2 separate regions of the Homo sapiens genome follow, and region 1 is reported to be linked to region 2. Evidence: microRNA targets listed by miRTarBase, many of them from high-throughput screens and not tested one by one. Region 2 holds a microRNA gene; the other region holds the end of a gene's coding sequence.

Region 1 (3,000 bases), not on the chromosome of region 2:
CCGGTACAGGCACACCGTGGGTGATCAGGACATGCTTCCACTCAAATGGAGTGGGCAAGTTCCAAAGACCAGTCTTACCAAGTTTCAGATGTCCGGGCTCCAAGTGCCCGTTCCTTCAGCCACTGTGCTGATCCTCCACGGGGGCCTGCCACACACTGCTCTGACGAGGTGTTCCACCCGTCAAGAGCATTGCCTACCCGGGAGTGCTCTCAGGATCTGCGTAGCTCAAGCTGGCCACAGTCCCCCGCAGGGATGCTCCACAGGGCAGGCCTAAGCCGCCTAAGGGGCCGCCTCGACCGTCCGTCAATTACCTCGCTTCCCGGTCAGGGAACCAAGAAATGTAGCAGGATGAGTCCCAGACAAAACTCCTCAGACACCGGATTAAAGAAGGAAGAGGTTTTTATTCGGCCGGGAGCGTCGGCAGACTCGCGTCTTAAGAGCCGAGCTCCCCGAAAAAGAAATTCCTAGCCCTTTTAAGAGCTTACAACTCTAAGGGGTCCACGTGAAAGGGTCATAATAGATCAAGTAAGCGTGAGGAACGTGACTGGGGGCTACACACATCAGCTAATAGGACAAAAAGTTTTACGGTGCTTTCTCACACAATGTCTGGGATTTACAGATAACACCAGTCGTTTTGGTCAGGGGTTAATATTATTATCATTTTAACCACCAGGGCCAGGTGGTGGCGCCAAGGTCGTCTAGCTATTTATCTTACTTCTGTTTCTTTCCAGCTTTTTGCTTTCTCCCTTTTCTCCTGTCTTATAAACTAGGGAAAAGGGGAGGTTGGGGAGAAGCTGGGAAGGACAACAGGAGAAGTGGTGGTCTCATTCCATAGCAGTAGCGCTGTCCCCTTTTCCTTCCTGGGCATCTGAACCCCCTGGGATTCCCCTGAGCTGGGTGCAGGCACGGAGCTGCTGGCTGGCTTGCTCATACTGCTGTCTGAGTGACTCTTCTCCTGGGGGTAGCTCCCTCCCCACCCTGGAGGTCAGCAGCTTGGGCCAAGGTCCCTGGCACAGGGCCATAAGCTATTTCAGTGCTTTCAGGTTGCCTGGAAGGGATGTCAGGGAGCCCACCGGCCTCTGTACGGCCGACCTAATCTCACCCACTGAAACATTAGCCTCGGGGCCAACTCTGGCCTCACCCTTGGCAGGGACAGGAAGGCACTGGCTCACGCTAGAGCCACAGCTCGGCTGTCCACCAGGGCACAGTCAAGGGCTGGGTGCATTGCTAGCTCCCAGGTTTTTCTGTTGCCGTACTCCCATCCCCACTTTAATCCTAGCACTCAGCCCCGTCTAAATCCCTTCCAGAAGTCCTTGTGCACCCACCAGCCAAGAACAAGGAACAAGCTGTGTCTTCAGAAATCTCTGGCAACCTTGGCCCCAGACAGGCTCTCTGATGCAGCTGGGAACAGGAAGTTTCACACCAAAAAAAAAAAAAAAAAAAAAAAAAAGTCCCATTTTATTGAGAAAATAGTGTCAATCCCTCCATCTTTCCTAGGTGACTCCCGCTGAGGTAGGAGGTGGCAACCTTCTGCACCCACCCCCACAGCTGATCCATCCCTTCACCGGGGCAGATGCTGGTCTGCTAGGCCCTGGAGAAGCAGGGTGCGGTGGGGCAGGGCTCTGGAGGGGGCTGGGCTGTGAGGGGCCTGGGGGTGCTGAGGGCAGGCAGCTGGAATGAGGGGAGGGAAGGGAGGAGGGCCAGGGAGGACACCACCCCCTCCTGAAGCCTGGAGCCTTCTCCCTCCAAATTCTTCATAAATAAAACTTCACAGTAATAGAGGAATGTCCACTTCCAGGGCCAAACCGGCTGCTTTCCAGCCAGGGAGCCAGGCCTGGGGGTGTGGGGGCTGCGGGAGAGACTTGCCTGGGGTGGGGGTCAGCAGCTCTGGGACTTCGGGGGGCCAGGAGCGCTGCTCTTCTGCCCTGTGTCGGGGTGGGGTAGGGCTGCAGCCCCAGGGAGATTCTGAGGGGCGCTGAGGTAGTCAGAGCGGTCGCCCTTCCAGACCTTACAGGACACAGCCAGGAGTGGAGGCCCTGTGGCAGAGGCGGCCCGTCTCCAGGCAGGCCTGGGGCTGCGGAGAGCCGGCTGGGCCCTCTCTCCCAGGAGACCAGGGTGTGGACTGGGGGGTGCCTGTGAGCCCGCACAGGGTTGAGTTTCTCCTGCCAGGGCCGCCCGGCCTCTGGGGAGACTGAGGCATTTCACAGAAGACTCTTCCCTGTGAAGACGAGGGGCGGCCACAGACCCATCAGGCCAGGCCTAGCCCAGGTACCTGAGCACAGCGTTCCTCCAGAGGTCACCAGGACCTCCCACCACATCTGAGGGGGCCAGCAACGGACCCAGGTCAGGAGGGCTGCCAGGGCCTGGCGCCTCGCTCCTCAGAGAGGGCCTCCAGACTGGGCAGCTCCAACCGTTCCTGGGCCTCAGTTTCCTAGAATTATCCACACAGGGAGGTCCCTTTCTGGCTACCTGCACCCCACCACACCCAGTGGCACGTAGGCCTCAACCCTCCACCTCCCCTTGGGGACCAAAGGCTAGGCCTGGGCACTGTGGCTCCAGCCCCAATACCATGGGGGCTCAGGAGCAAGTGCCCTGGCCTGTCCTAGTAGCCCGGCTGGGGTCAGAGCACCTGGAGCTTGCGGGAGCAGGTGAGATTGCTGTGCACCAGCCCCCACATGGCGAGCAGCTCAGGGGGCAGCAGCTTGTGCACCACGAGCATGGCGCGGAAAAAGCACGGCTCCTTGTTCATGCGGCTGTTGCGGTTCCGGGAGATGCCGAAAGTCTTGAAGCCCTCGTGGGCCGTGGGCTGCACGCCCAGCACCTCCAGGCACATGCCCAGAAAGACGTCGTCGATCGGGTAGAGCTCCAGGGTGTCGCAGGCATGGTGCAGGCGCCGGGCCAGGCTGCCGGCCATGAGGAAGCCACCGCCGCCTGCATACGGCGGATAGCTGGCCTTGCCGTACAGGGCCCCCGGGATGTAGTATTTGTTGTCTTTCCTGC
Region 2 (4,345 bases):
TTTATTTTGTTAAGTTGAAATAGGAAAATTTTAAGCAGTATTAATCTCCTATTTTTGGATACCTAGGGTTTCTCTTATGGTTTTCTGTTTCACCTAAAAATACTGATTAATAATTGAGTATCTGTGAAGTCGAAACTGTAAATAAAATACATATTTTTTTGAGAAGCAAAGTGAACAAATCAACCAAAGACACACTCACCCATGCCAAGACAGAATATTCTTCCCACTGCTTCAAAATCTGCTCTAAATAATGTAAGAAGCTTTGATTCAAGGAAAAAATTTTTTTCTCATAATTTCAATTAGTAATTTAGGCTAATCTATGTCGTTTGACATTTTACTAGAAAAATCTCTTCTCAGGAATTTAAACTAAAATTTTGTCTGCATATTTTTATCTAACTTTTAAGTTCAGGGGTACAAATGCAGGTTTGTTACACAGGTCAGCTTGTGTCATGGGGGTTTGTTGTACAGATTATTTCATCAATCAAGTATTAAGCCTAGTACCTGTTAGTTATTTTTTCTGATCCTCTCCCTCTTCCCACTCTCCACCCTCTGAAAGGCCCCACTGTGTGTTGTTCTTCTCCATGTGTCCACGTGTTCTCATCATTTAGCTCCTACTTTTTAAGTGAGAAAATGCAGTATTTTTTTTTGCAAAATTAAAATCCAGATCATATTTGGAAGATAGACAGGGAATGCTTCCTAAAACTGCCTTGAAAGTAAAAGAAAAAAGACTTGTCACCATCTTTGGACTGCTCCTTTAAAAAAAATTTCATTAATTAAAAAAATATTGAGTGCTTACTATGTGCTAGGCATTGAGCTAGGAGAAGGCTATGTGGCTACTAACAGGATACACATGATCCATATTCTGATGGTATAAAAAGTAAAACAGGAAAAAGAAACAGACTGAAAAATATCCCAAAAAACTTGACGTACAATTCTAATTAAAATAAATTCAATTTTTGTAATGTAAGTTTCAATAATTTACCTTATCCTTACATCAAGGAACATATATGTAAGTATAACTTTGCTCCTTCTCTCATTCTATTACCATGTCTTCAAATGTCTATAGATTTGCATGAATAAACTAAAATAAGAATTTTAATTACCAATTTTTCACCATAAAATACTAAAAGAATAGCTTGCAAAACTGTATTATAGTATCTGCATGAAAATGATGTTTTACGAACTAAGTAGATGGGAATTTAAAAATCAAGCCCTGACATGAGTGCCCTCAACTGGTGAAATCATTCCAAAGCATTCTTTTAACGCATCTAGCAAAACTCAGAAGGACGGCTGGACACCTGGCCCTGAAGCTCCCTAATGGTGTGTTCCTGGTCTGCACACTTCCCCTTGCAGCACTGCAGACTCTCCTGACACTCGTGAAGCCTCCGTTCCGCCGCCGTCAAGGAATCGCAGACACGCTCTAACTCCTTCAGATGAGACTCCATCTGGCCTCTCATCTGAGTTGTGGCAGTAGGGAAATAAGTGCAAGATCACACATTCAGCATTAATATTTTTATTATCTTAAATACTAGATATGCTTATAACGTAAGTATTTTAGGTATAATGGCTTTAAATAAGAACACAACTGAATAAATATTAAACTCTGTTAAATAAGAATGTATAACTAAAAAGTGGGGTAGACTTTAGTTTTCAAAAAGTTTGTTGAGCACATAAATAGGGTAAATTAGCTGACAGGGTGGATGTTTAACTAATTTTTAAGAGCAAATTTTTAAAATCCTGACATTATATTCAAGCATAGATTATCACTAATAACCATTACTAATAAAGCCGTAATTGTCTACTGCCCAGCTATAGGTTCTAAAGGAATTGTCACTTTTAGTCATTCAATCTTATAACTCAGATACTTACTTAAATTAGAGCAGCTTGCTTCACTCATCTTAGCCAAAACTGATAGGGTTTACTGTATATTATTTAAAAATTGCTAGTATCATCAGTTCTCACTTGCCTTTAATTTGGCCATTAATGTTACTATCAACAAATCTCTCTAATTTCATCTACATTAATCTGTTTTGGCTACTGCAGTTCCTCGCTGCAGCACTTTCGTGGAGATGTGAAAAGCAGCAACCTTAAGAAATGTTTGCACTGCTAATTACAAAAAATAGCCAGACTCTTTCCCTGAGACAGGAACACCTAATAGTTTCTGTGTAGTATCTGGCATTCTTGATCAGGAAAGATAATGCAGTATTTTTTTTTTTTTGCAAAATTAAAATCCAGATTATATTTGGAAGACAGACAGGGAATGCTTCCTAAAACTGTCTTGAAAGTAAAAGAAAAAAGACTTGTCGCCATCCTTGGACTGCTCCTTTAAAAAAAATTTCATTAATTAAAAAAATATTGAGTGCTTACTACGTGCTAGGCATTGAGCTAGGAGAAGGCTATGTGGCTACTAACAGGATACACATGATCCATATTCTGATGGTATATAAAGTAAAACAGGAAAAAAAAAAAACAGACTGAAAAATGTCTGTTTTAAGGACACTGAGGGATCCAGAACAAAGGATCCCTCAGTGTCCTTAAAACATCTTAGAGGCCATGAGAAAACCAGGAGACTTAAAACAGTGAAGTAAGAAAAAGAAAAATTTCATTAAAAAAATAGTTGTCTTGTTAAATACTAGTTAGAAAACATTGTGACCTCACAGTATCTGAAAAAGACAGGCTCCAACCCTTTCCGTCATTTGAACAGGATTGTAAAATATGCTTTTATTTACAGTGCTGCCTAGCAGAAAAGGAGACATTTGCACTGGTATGTTTCATGAGAAAATGAGACCAAAAGACATGAAATGGTTTATTCGCTGGCCTGCTAAAAATAGGTGAAAAGTAATTCCATGAAAGCAGTAAGTTGTGCATTCAGTGAGCTATCTTTATGTCTGTATAACTGGAGGACGCTTGCTCTGGCTGACCTCTTCTTCACATTATTGCCTTGCTCTGACTTCTCAATCCTAAGATAGGGAGCAACCCAGAGAGAGTAACCTTATTAGATTCAGATGGAAGCGACCACTAACATCGCATGACCTCTGCTGCCAGGAGTCAGCATCCTACAACTTTCACTGCTTCTTTACCAAAACAACACAAAAAACCAAACAGAGATGCGGTTTCATTTAAAAATTTTAAAATATTCACAAAAACATCATAACTCGCCAACACTGGCCTTCCCTTCATTCTGTTGCAATAGAACAAATAAAAGGAAATGATCGTTTTTTAAAAGATATTATTTTTCTTCAAAAATGCATTTAGCAGATATTGGCTTTGCTTTTGTAGACGTAAAACATTTATAACCAGAAAAAAAGGGTGAGATTAAAAATGAGAGATACTTAGGTTTGTATACTTATGATTGATAACCATTTTTTGAGCTATTTAAAGTCTGCTCTTGCATCAGAAAAATTAAACATTTATGCTATTTTCCAAATATTAACAAAAAAGTGAAAAAACATTCACATAAACAAACAACATTTCCAGCCTGGAAGAAACATTATTTCCTTGGAAAACAAACTCTTACAGAGGCTAAGACTAGCCCTTTCCTAAGTATGAACTAGAGAAAATGACCAAAATGAATGAATTTGTGTACTATTCATAAAGTAAAAAATATATAAAATATTATTTATTTGAAATTCCAAACGTACCTTCTCTACATTTTTATTTTTGGTTTTTGTTATTTGGTTATTTTTATGTAGCAAATTTTCACATCTGCTTTTTACTATTTCAGCTGCTTCTTGCAACTTTTGTACCTGAAAATAAAGTATTAGAGAAACATATTATTTTTAGAATCATAACATGAGATAAAAATCTAAAATTTAAAATTTCATTTTAAACAAGTCATTATTTTCCTATCAATATCCTTGACTGGTTCATCTAATGTTATTACTTCTTTAAATATGGAATCACTCAGTGCTCTACTCTAACCCACAATCTTTGTCTGATTTACCTGTCTTCTCTCATCAATACTTCTAAACTCTCCACTTGAGCTTTGAAGACTACAAAGATTTTCATTTGCAGATCAATGTCACTTCAAAGAATCAGTCTCTGGTCCAAACTAGCTTCCATTTAAATTATTTTTCCCACCAAATCAAAATCTGCTAAAAAAAAAAAAAAAAATTCTAGGCCCTGCACCCAGAATATGGTCACTCAACCACAGTATTCCTGCTGAGGGATTAAACCCAAATAACCAGCTGGAAGACCCTGATGAATAACAAGTCCCACAGTCCACCACAACCTCCATTCCTACCTCAGACCTGGATGACTGAAATATTCTAACTGGATGTCTCAACTTAATTTTCCCATCTAATCCATCGAGATGCAGCCCCTTCCTACTTGCCCACACTTTGGC

What was found. The annotated mature microRNA hsa-miR-7856-5p reads UUUUAAGGACACUGAGGGAUC and lies in region 2 at 2,520-2,540, opposite strand. An mRNA with a match to its seed (bases 2 to 7 or 8) in the 3' UTR can be bound and repressed. Matches are read on the target gene's strand: a 7mer-m8 pairs with bases 2 to 8, a 7mer-A1 pairs with bases 2 to 7 and ends in A, and an 8mer does both.
Region 1: the mRNA of B3GNT7 is a reported target of hsa-miR-7856-5p. Seed matches in the 3' UTR shown: 7mer-A1 at 472-478.

What each region holds. Positions count from the first base shown.
Region 1 is chr2:231,398,546-231,401,545 of GRCh38, reverse strand. It overlaps B3GNT7 (UDP-GlcNAc:betaGal beta-1,3-N-acetylglucosaminyltransferase 7), which reads right to left. Exons shown (of 2, transcript NM_145236.3): 2 at 382-3,000. The coding sequence ends at 2,621. Among named protein-coding and RNA genes, the nearest start is that of B3GNT7, 4.3 kb to the right of the region's middle. RefSeq lists enhancers at 1-249, 1,891-2,436, 2,437-2,984.
Region 2 is chr1:86,355,146-86,359,490 of GRCh38, forward strand. It overlaps MIR7856 (microRNA 7856), which reads right to left and starts at 2,542; the gene lies at 2,487-2,542. It overlaps ODF2L (outer dense fiber of sperm tails 2 like), which reads right to left. Exons shown (of 17, transcript NM_001366781.1): 12 at 3,642-3,746; 13 at 1,299-1,457.